3 linked regions of the Homo sapiens genome follow. The protein of the gene in region 1 purifies or fractionates together with the protein of each later gene. This does not show direct contact. Each region holds a gene or a part of one and is shown in the gene's direction. Other genes may lie near its edges. The genes, in order: ZBTB46, FBXO21 and ASB3.

Region 1 (3,651 bases):
CCTGCTCCGAATGTCATCTCTTCCTTTTCGGCAGCTCCTTGTTCTGCTCGCACCCACACGCGTTTGCCTCCAGCCCTCAAGCCCGGGGCCAGTGTGGGGCGGGATGGGGCCTTTGTTCTCTGCCGCCGTTGAGGCAGCACCTGGAGTCAGGCGGGGGCCTGGTCTTGGCATCTTGGGGGCTTGAGGCCCTTCCTGTAATGGTCAGCGGTCACCGCCGTCACAGCCCTCGTGCCCGGCGGGCAGGAAGTGAAGGGGAGGCTGGGCCCGGTCTTCTGCAGCGCGTCTCCCGGCAGGCAACACCGGCTGTGGGGGCCTGGGAACCCCACACCATCCAAGGAGGGGATGGCCCAGGACCCTGAAGGCAGAGACAGGCACAAAAGCTTCTCTCTCCTTTCTACCTCATCTTCCCGGCCTGTGAAATGTGAGACAGAATAATTACTTTTCTCAGGACATTTTAGGCTGGGCGTGGTGGCTCACGCCTGTAATCCCAGCACTTTGAGAGGCCGAGGCGGGTGGATCATCTGAGGTCAGGAGTTTGAAACCAGCCTGGCCAAAATGGTGAAACCCCATCTCTCCTAAAAATACAAAAATGTCAGCCAGGCGTGGTGGCGGGTGTCTGTAGTCCCAGCTACTCGGGAGGCTGAGGCAGGAGAATGGCATGAACCTGGGAGCGGAGCTTGCAGTGAGCGGAGATCAAACCACTGCACTCCAGCCTGGGGGACAGAGCGAGACTCCGTCTCAAAAAAAAAAAAAGAAGAAAATATTCTGTCATGACTAAGTGAAGGTGTGTATGTCGTAACCAGTCGGAGCCCAGGAGTGTGTGATACAAAACTGCTGAGCCCCCGACCCCGTCCCCCATGAGGGCTGCATGTGGGGGCTCCTTGCCGGAAGGACATGTAATACTCCCACGCTCGCTTAGTTTTCTCCTATTAAACACATTTAGCATTTCAGGTGAGTCCTACTTGACTTATCAGCTGGAGAATGGGGTTTGTAACGGGAGAGACCCAACCACTGTTTCTTTCCCAGGCAGGGCTGTGGGGTGAACGTGTCCCCTTACGATTTGTCTGTGGAAGTTCTAGCCCCCTAGGACCCCAGAATGTGACCTTATTGGAAACAGGGTCACTGTGGATATGATTAATTAAGATGAGGCCGTGGGGGTGGGCCCCTACTCCCGGACGACTGGTGTCCTTGTGAAAGGGTGACATTTGGACACAGACGTGCACACCGGGAGAAGCCGTGTTGAGACAGAGGCAGAGCTCGTGCGATGCCTCCACACAGAACGCCGGCTGGGGGAGGGGCTGGAACAGGCACCAGCTCGGCCGACATCCTGATTCTGGACTTGAGAATACGTTTCTGTTGTTTGAGCCTCCCAGGCTTGATAGGGCGGCCCCAGCAGACGAGAACAGGCGGAGGACTCACATCCCTGAGTCTAAGGAGAGACAGGAGAGACTCCGGGACGGGGTGTACCCAATTCAGAAATGATTCTGTGTGTCCTGTGACTCTGTGAGGCAGGGCTGTCTTCTGATGAGGGGGACCCAGAGACCAGTCGTGTCTCAGACGTCCAGGGCGCTGGCAGCCGCAGGGCCTGAGCTCCCTCCTGCCCTGTCCCAGTGCTGGGCAGGGACCCAGGCCTAAGCCAGGAAGCCTCCCTCCTCCAGAAGACTTCAGCTCGTTTGAGCTCAGAGTTTTGGAAATTTTCAGGACTAAGGCTATGAATGCTTTAATTCCTTATTCTGTGGTTTTTTGTGTAAGAAGTTTTTTTTTTTTTTTTTTTTTTTTGAGATGGAGTCTCGCCCTGTCGCCCAGGCTGGAGTGCACTGGCGCGATCTCGGCTCACTGCAGGCTCCGCCTCCCGGGTTCACGCCATTCTCCTGCCTCAGCCTCCTGAATAGCTGGGACTACAGGCTCCCGCCACCATGCCCAGCTGCTTTTTTTGTATTTTTAGTAGAGACAGGGTTTCACCATGTTGGCCAGGATGGTCTCGATCTCCTGACCTTGTGCTCCACCCTCCTCGGCCTCCCAGATTGCTGGGATTACAGGCATGAGCCACCGCGCCCAGCCTGGAAGTTTTATTCTTTTTCCTTAAGAATGTTTCTTCAAGCGTGAGGGATGGCCACAGTGTAGGTCATTTAACCGAGTTCTCAGTTTGGGTAAGAGTTGCTCAGCCACGGCTGGGTGTTCTCATCGTTCCTGGGATATGCCAGTTGCCGTATGTGGGATTCTGTTCAGAACCCCATTAGCCTCGAGCACGGAAACACGTGGCAGACGTCCCACCCTGGACGCACTGGTGCCCTCCGGTGTTTGCTGCCCTGCTTCAGGCGGAGACACAGGCCTCCCGCTGCACACCTGTGGATGGGCTCTCGCGTGGGTCGTCCTCCCACTGGCCGCACTCTGTGCCCCATGGCCCTCCTGCGCCCCGCCCGGCGTCCTCTCACGGCCTCTGTCTGTGCTGAGCTTGGGTAACTCTTGTTCTTACCTCCACAGAGTCTGTAGAAGAGGCGACACCAGGGCTTCCAAATGAACAACCGAAAGGAAGATATGGAAATCACGTCCCACTACCGGCACCTGCTGCGGGAGCTCAACGAGCAGAGGCAGCACGGCGTCCTGTGCGACGTCTGCGTGGTCGTGGAGGGCAAGGTCTTCAAGGCGCACAAGAACGTCCTGCTGGGCAGCAGCCGCTACTTCAAGACGCTCTACTGCCAGGTGCAGAAGACGTCGGAGCAGGCCACGGTCACGCACCTGGACATCGTCACGGCCCAGGGCTTCAAGGCCATCATCGACTTCATGTACTCAGCGCACCTGGCGCTCACCAGCAGGAACGTCATCGAGGTGATGTCAGCCGCCAGCTTCCTGCAGATGACGGACATCGTGCAAGCCTGCCACGACTTCATCAAGGCGGCGCTGGACATCAGCATCAAGTCGGACGCCTCAGATGAGCTTGCGGAGTTCGAGATCGGCGCCTCGTCCAGCAGCAGCACGGAAGCTCTCATCTCGGCCGTGATGGCTGGGAGGAGCATCTCCCCGTGGCTGGCACGGCGAACGAGTCCTGCCAATTCTTCCGGAGACTCGGCCATCGCCAGCTGTCACGACGGAGGGAGCAGCTACGGGAAAGAGGATCAGGAGCCCAAGGCCGATGGCCCTGATGATGTTTCTTCACAGCCTCTATGGCCTGGAGACGTGGGCTACGGGCCTCTGCGCATCAAGGAAGAGCAGGTTTCACCGTCTCAGTACGGAGGGAGCGAGCTGCCTTCTGCCAAGGACGGTGCAGTACAGAACTCTTTCTCAGAGCAGAGTGCTGGTGATGCCTGGCAGCCCACGGGCCGAAGGAAGAATCGGAAAAACAAAGAGACCGTCCGGCACATCACACAGCAGGTGGAAGATGACAGCCGGGCCAGCTCCCCGGTGCCGTCCTTCCTGCCGACGTCGGGGTGGCCGTTCAGCAGCCGAGACTCAAGTAAGCCTTTCACTCGTTACGGGGGCTCAGCTGCCCCAGTGTGTCCAGGCCTCACGGCCGCGTGCTGTGCGGAGGCAGTGACGCATGTCCAGGCTCACACTGGTGGCTTTCTAGGGTCACTTCCTCTTACAGGAGGTTGTCGTGACCGCTGGGAATGCAGCCAATGCATCTCAAAGGGCAGGGCATCACCAGGGCCC
Region 2 (3,651 bases), on another chromosome or scaffold:
AGGCCATCTTATAAAGCTACTTATAATCCAAACAGCACAGTGATTCAATAAAAATAGCTGCATCAGTAGCAGAGGATAATTGACAAATGCATCCCAGAATAAAAGATAATTTAATATATTTAAACTCAGAGGGAAAAAATGGATTTTTAAAGAAATGGTACTGGACATAACTGAATATCCAGCTGGAAGAAAGGAAAACGTGCATCATATGCAAACATTTTTCCAAAGGATGAAACAACTGAAATTTTTAAATGATCACAGTGAACATTCCTCAAGAAAATAGGAGACTTTGTATAGTCTAAGGGAGACCACCTTAACCAAGAAGGACAATGCGGAGACAGTGAAAGAGCAGACACTTCTATATGGCCAAGAGAGCATGAACGAAGTCAGTAGAACTCAAGAGATATTGAAAAATGTTCAAAGGTTAGGAGGATGACATTCACAGAAGAACAAATCCTAACATCTAACAATCACGGAAAACTTTTAATACACTATTCAAAAAGTGTTAAATAGGCCGGGTGCAGTGGCTCACGCCTGTAATCCCAGCACTTTGGGAGGCCAAGTCCTTGGATCATCTGAGGTCAGGAGTTCGACACCAGCCTGGCCAACATGATGAAACCCTGTCTCTACAAAAAATACAAAAATTAGCCAGACATGGTGGCAGGTGCCTGTAATCCCAGCTACTGGGGAGGCTGAGGCAGGATAATTGCTTGAACCTGGGAGGCGTGGGAGGCAGAGGTTGCAGTGAGCCGAGATCGCGCCATTGCATTCCAGCCTGGGTGACAAGAGTGAAACTCCGTCTCAAAAAAAAAAAAGTGTTAAACAGCAATGAGATACTGCCATTTTACATATCAGGTTCCCAAAAAAGATGAAAATGCATAGCTAGTAAAGACATATATTATAGTGTTTTTAGAAATAAATACGAATAGGTTACCCAACACACATATTTTGACCTTAAAAAAGGATTGTTTGTTTTAGAAACAGAGTCTCACTCTTGTCACCCAGGGTGGAATGCTGTGACGCAATCATAGCTCACTGCAGACTCAAACCCCTGGGCTCAAGTGACCCTCCTGCCTCAGCCTCCCGAGTAGTTAGGACTACAGGCACTTGCCACCACACCTGGCTAATTTTTTCTATTTTTTGTATAGATGGAGTCTTGCTTTGTTGCCCAGGCAGTTACTAAACTCCTGGCCTCAAGAGATCTTCCCAGCCAGGCATGGTGGCTCACGCCTGTAATCACAGCATTTTGAGAGGCCGAGGCGGGTTGATCACTTGAGGTCAGGAGTTCAAGACCAGCCTGTCCAACATGGTAAAACCCTGCCTCTACTAAAAATACAAAAATTAGCTGGGCATGGTGGCACACGCCTGTAATCCCGGCTACTCGGGAGGCTGAGACAGGAGAATTGCTTGAACCTGGGAGGCTGAGGTTGCAGTAAGCTGAGATTGCACCACTGCACTCCAGCCTGGGCGACAGACTCGGTCCAAAAAAAAAAAAAAAAAAAAAAAGATCCTCTTGCTGTGGCCTCCCAATGTGCTGGGATTACAGGTGTGAGCCACCACGCCCAGCCCTGTTTGTTTTTTTGAGACAGGGTTTCATCCTGTTGCCCAGGCTGGAGTACAGTGGTGCAATCATGGCTCACTGTAACCTTGAATCCTGTGTTCAGGGGATCCTCTGGCCTCAGCCTCCTGAGTAGCTAGGAATACAGGCATGTACCATCATGCCTGGCTAATTTTTATTTGGTAGAGACAGTGTCTCACTATGTTTCCCAGGCTGGTCTTGAACTCTTGACTTCAAGTGATCCTCCCACCTTGGCCTTCCAAAGTACTAGGACTATAAGTGTGAGCCAACAAACAAATAAGGTTGTTTTTAAATGATAGAATACCCCGCATTTAAAAATATTTTGGGATACCAGTTTTCATGGAAGACCCTGTTTGTTTTCATTCCTGGCAAATGCTTATGGTTTGGATATGGAAAGCATGGGAAGGAAAAAGTGTAGTTTCCATAAATGCCAAAGTATCAGCTTGAAATCAGTTTGTGTTTATGATGTGCTATGTGGTCTTAAAAACGAGTATGTCCTACAATAAAGATTAGAAACAGCATATTAAAAGGGCATACACTGGGCCAGGCACAGTGGCTCACACCTGTAATCCCATGACTTTGGGAGGCTGAGGTGGGCAGATCACCTGAGGTCAGGAGTTCGAGACCAGCCTGGCCAACATGGAGAAACGCCGTCTCTACTGAAAATACAAAAAATTAGCCGGGCATGGTGGCAGGCACCTGTAATCCCAGCTACTCAAGAGGCTGAAACAAGAGAATCGCTTGAACCTGGGAAGTGGAGGTTGCAGTGAGCTGACATTATGCCGCTGCACTCCAGCCTGGGTGGCAAAGTGAGACTCTGTCTCAGATAGATAGATAGCTAGATTAGATAGATAGATAGATAGATAGATAGATAGATAGATAGATAGATAGACTGTCTCAGATAGATAGATCGATCGATCGATAGACTGTCTCAGATAGATAGATAGATATAAATAGATAGATAGATAAATTCATACATTGTACCTGAGAAAAGTGTCACAGAATGACCAATACTGAGACATACTTTAGTAAAATTGCTGGATTTTAAAGACAGGAAAGTCCTTTGAGCATCCAAGCAAAAAAGGTAAAGTCATTTATAAGGAAAAGAAAATAAGAATATCATCAGACTTTTCAACAGAATTTTTTGTGCCAAAGGAAAAAATAGCTTAAGATACTCAATGATCTAAGGAAATGTCAACCAAGGATTTTTATATCCAGCCAAACTGACTTCCAGATACAAAGACTGCACAGAAACTTAACAACTTAACAAGAATTCAGTGACTTTTCAGTCCTTCCTGAGAGATCTCCTGGAAAATGAATTTCAAATGACCAAAAACCACTCCCCGCCCCAAAAAAAACAAAACAGAGAAACACTGATATAAGGACTGGCAGTGAGCACTAAACATGTATTTATTTTTAGATTTAAATTCAAATGAGGGCTCTAGGGGAGAAAATATTTCATGTGTAACGTCTGTAAGACATGTCAGTATAAATACAATGCATCTGTTTTAAAAAATGAATGGACAGTGGGGGAGAACATATGCAAAATATTTAGCTGTTTTCAGTAATCATAAAAGTGATGAGTAATCCCAGCACTTTGGGAGGCTGAGGTAGGCGGATCACAAGGTCAGGAGACTGAGACCATCCTGGCCAACATGGTGAAACCTCGTCTCTACTAAAAATACATAAAAAAAAAAAAATTAGCTTGGTGTGGTGATGCAGCCTGTAATCCCAGCTATTTGGGAGGCTGAGGCAGGAGACTAGGTTGAACCCGGGAGGCGGAGATTGCAGTGAGCTGAGATCGCACCACTGCACTCCAGCCTGGCGACAGAGCGAGACTCCGTCTCAAAAGAAAAAAAAAAGTGATGAAAACATTAGTCTTGTTATTCTGAGGGCTGGTGTGTGTGTATGAGAGAGAGATGTGGAATGAAGTAAATGAATAACGATGTGATATTCTAATTTTACCACCTGTGATATCCTGGAGAAGCAGAATTCTCCTGGAATAAAGAAGACATAGATATAAGATAGAAGAAGGTCAGAGACATATATTTTTGAATTAGAAGTGCCAGTGT
Region 3 (3,651 bases), on another chromosome or scaffold:
ATTCTCCTGCCTCAGCCTCCTGAGTACCTGGGATTACAGGCGCGCACCCCTGTGGCCAGCTAATTTTTTTGTATTTTTAGTAGAGATGGGGTTTCATCGTGTTGGCCAATTTGGTCTCAAACTCCTGACCTTCAAGTGATCTGCCCATCTCGGCCTCACAAGTGAATCAGTTTTTTAAATTTATTGAGATGTGCTTTTTGGCCGAGCATGTGGTCTGTCTTGGAGTATGTTATATGTGCTGTTGAGAAGAATATATATTCTGTGGTTGATGAGTGGAGTGTTCTTTAGATGTGTATTAGGTCCAATTGGTCAAATGTTGAATTTACACCCAGAATTTGTTTTTTAATTTTCTGCCTCAGTGATCTGTCTAATGCTGTCAATGGGATTTGACATCTCCCAACATTATTGCTATCTCTATAGATCTCTAAGAGCTTGTTTTATGAAACTGGATGCTTCAATGTTGGGTGTGTGTATATTTAGGATAGTTAAGTCTTCTCATTGAATTGAACCCTTTATCATTATGTAATTACCTTCTTTGTCCTTTTGTACTGTTGTTGGTTTTTTTATATATAATTTTTTCTTGAATAGAAATGGGGTCTCACTGTGTTGCTGTGAACCCCAAATATCTGAGAGAGATCTCAGTCAATTTAGGAAGTTTATTTTGCCAACATTAAGGGCATGTGCCTGTGACACAGCCTCAGGAGGTCCTGGCAACATATGCCCAAAGTGGTTGGGGCACAACTTGGTTTTATACGTTTTATACATGAGACATCAATCAACATATATAAGATATACATTGGTTCTGTCTGGAAAAGCGGGACAACTCAAAGTGGGGAGAGTATGTCCAGGTCATAGGTAGGTAGGAGACAAATGGTTGCCTTTTTTTTTTTTTTTGAGTTTCTGATTAGCCTTTCCAAAGGAGGCACTCAGATATGCACTTATCCCAGTGAGCAGAGGGATGACTTTGAGTTTGAGTTCTGTCTGTCCTTCGTCCACAGGGAAATTCCTTGTGAGGGAGGTACGTAACTTTTTCTAATCTTAGTAGCTATTTTTTAGGAATAGAATAGGAGGCAGGGTTGCGCTAAGCAGTTCCCAGCTTGACTTTTCCCTTTGGCTTAGTGATTGTGGGGGTCCCAAGATTTATTTTCCTTTCACATTGCCCTGGCTGGTCTTGAACTCCTGAGCTCAAGCGATCCTCCCCCCTTGTAAGAGTTAAAGAAAGAGGAAAGAAACACAAAAGATGGGTTGGCAGTTAAAGACAGGTTTACTTTAGATAAAACCTGAGAAGGGTTTCTGGCTGATTTCGATCAGGAGCACTTTCTCTTACAGGCTAAGTACATGAGTATATATTGGTTTTAGGGTGAGGGGGCTTATCACAAGCTTGGAGTGTTTATGTGTGGGGGAGAAGTTTATGGTGAGGTTGGAATGTCTCTGGGTGAAGGGGGGATTATCTTGGGGCTGACGTCTTTCTAGAAGGAAGGGAGTTATCTCGGGGCTGGCATCTTCCCAGCCAGAGCAGGGCAGCTAGCATGTCTCTGGTCGCAGAGGAGTTTGGCATGTTCCTGGTCGGAGATGCTTTTTTTGTTTATGATCATGCTGATCTTAGCCATTTAGGCTGATGCGCTTTGGATTTAGGAAGTTTTTGATTAAGGTGAATTGGAAAATAACAGTGCTTGTGCAAGATGGTGATACTCCTGCTCTGTCATACTTCGGCCTCTCAAAGCTCTGGGCTTATAGGCGTGAGCCACTGTGCCTGGCTCTGTTGTCTGATTTAAAGTCTGTTTTATCTGATATAAGAATATTGACCCCTGGTTGGGCGTGGTGGCTCACGCCTGTAATCCCAGCACTTTGGGAGGCCGAGGTGGGTGGATCACGAGGTCAAGAGATCAAGACCATCCTGGCCAACATGGTGAAACCCCGTCTCTATCTGCTAAAAATACAAAAATCAGCTGGGCGTGGTAGTGCATGCCTGTAGTCCCAGCTACTCGGGAGGCTGAGGCAGGAGAATTGCTTGAACCCAGGAGGCAGAGGTTGCAGTAAGCCGAGATCGCACCATTGCACTCCAGCCTGGCGACACGGCGAGACTCAGTCTCAAAAATAAAATAAAATAAAATAAAAAACTAGTGACCCCTGACCTTTTTTGTTTTCCATTTGGTTGATAAATCTTTTTTCAACCCTTTACTTTGAGCCTATGGGTGTTGTTACATGTGAGACGTGTCTCTTGAAGGCAGCAGATGGATGGGTCTTTTTTCTTTCTTTTTTTTTTTTTAATCCAAATTGCAGCTGTGTGCCTTTTAGGCAGGATGTTTCGTAAAAGGCGAAAGATTTGTATGATCTGAAGAGACCCTTTACATTCAAGGTTAATATTGATATGTGAGGTTTTGATCCTATTATTAAGTTGGTAGATGGTTGCTTTGCAGTTTCTATTGTATGATTGTATTATGGGGTCTTTGGGCTATGTACTTCAGTGTGTTTTTGTGGTATCAGTGTTGTTCTTTCATTTCCATGTTTAAAAGTCCCTTAAGGATCTCTGCTAAGACTGGTCTAGTGGTAACAAATTGTCTTATCGCTTGCTTGTCTGTAAAATATTTTATTTCTCCTTCGTTTGTGAAGCTTAGTTTGGTGGAATATGAAATTCTTGGTTGTAGTGTCCTCTCTTTAAGAATGCTGAAAATAGACCCCCAATCTCTCTTGCCTTGTAAGGTTTCTGCTGAGAAGTCCACTGTTCCTTTTGTATGTGATCTGACGTTTTTCTCTAGCTGCCTGTAAGATTTTTTCTTTAGTGTTAACCTTCAACAGTCTGGTGACTGTATGCCATGGTGATATTCACGTTCACAGAGAGTTCTCTGTATTGCTTCTATCTGGATGTCTTCCTCTCTGGCAAGATTAGGGAAATTTTCTTAAATTATGTCCTCAAATATGTTTTCCAGGTCATTTACTTTTTCTCCTTCTCTCTCAGGAATACCAATAATTCATAGATTTGGTTGCTTTACATTATCAAATATTTCTCAAAGCCTTTTTCATTAAAAATTTTTTATTTTTATTTTTATCTGACTGGGTTAGTTTGAAAGACTGATCTTCAAGCTCCAAAATTCTTCCTTCTGCTTGGCCTAGTCTATTAATAAAACTTGCAGTTATATTTTGAAATTCCTTAAGTGAGTTTTTCAATTCCAGAAGCTCTGATTGATTCCTTTTTAAGATGTTTATCTTAAGATGCCTTCATTTCCTGAATTGCTTTAGAAGTTTCTTTGTGTTTATTTTCAACCTTGTCTGGATCTTGTTGAGCTTCCTTGCAATCCTTGCTTTGAATTCTTTATCTGTCATTTCTGAGTTTCCATTTGGGTCAGGAACCATTGCGGGAACACGACTGTGATCCTTCAGTGGTGTCACTATATTTAGATTTTTCACAAATCCAAAATTCTTGGGGTAGTTCCTTTTCATCTGGAGATGTTCACACTTCTAATTTTTGTAATTATTTTCATGCAGGTGGGATTTTTTTCTTTTTCTTTCTTTCACTATAATATTATTGTTTTTCCCTTTCACATTTATGATTTTAAATATCAACTCAGAAACCTGTTGAAAGAGACCCTTTTTCTCTGATTGTAGGCATTATTTATCATGCAGTGGTTATGAAGAAAGAGATGTAATAGA

What was found.
Region 2: the proteins of ZBTB46 (region 1) and FBXO21 purify together in Homo sapiens (affinity purification with mass spectrometry, with the first as the bait; one large-scale study listed by BioGRID). This does not show direct contact.
Region 3: the proteins of ZBTB46 (region 1) and ASB3 purify together in Homo sapiens (affinity purification with mass spectrometry, with the first as the bait; one large-scale study listed by BioGRID). This does not show direct contact.

The regions. Positions count from the first base shown.
Region 1 is NC_000020.11:63,789,624-63,793,274, reverse strand, and holds part of ZBTB46 (zinc finger and BTB domain-containing protein 46), read left to right. Parts: intron 1-2,484; 5' UTR 2,485-2,517; coding exon 2,518-3,454; intron 3,455-3,651. UniProt on the Homo sapiens protein: Functions as a transcriptional repressor for PRDM1.
Region 2 is NC_000012.12:117,180,420-117,184,070, reverse strand, and holds part of FBXO21 (F-box only protein 21), read left to right. Parts: intron 1-3,651. UniProt on the Homo sapiens protein: Substrate-recognition component of the SCF (SKP1-CUL1-F-box protein)-type E3 ubiquitin ligase complex.
Region 3 is NC_000002.12:53,717,382-53,721,032, reverse strand, and holds part of ASB3 (ankyrin repeat and SOCS box protein 3), read left to right. Parts: intron 1-3,651. UniProt on the Homo sapiens protein: Probable substrate-recognition component of a SCF-like ECS (Elongin-Cullin-SOCS-box protein) E3 ubiquitin-protein ligase complex which mediates the ubiquitination and subsequent proteasomal degradation of target proteins. Recognizes TNFRSF1B.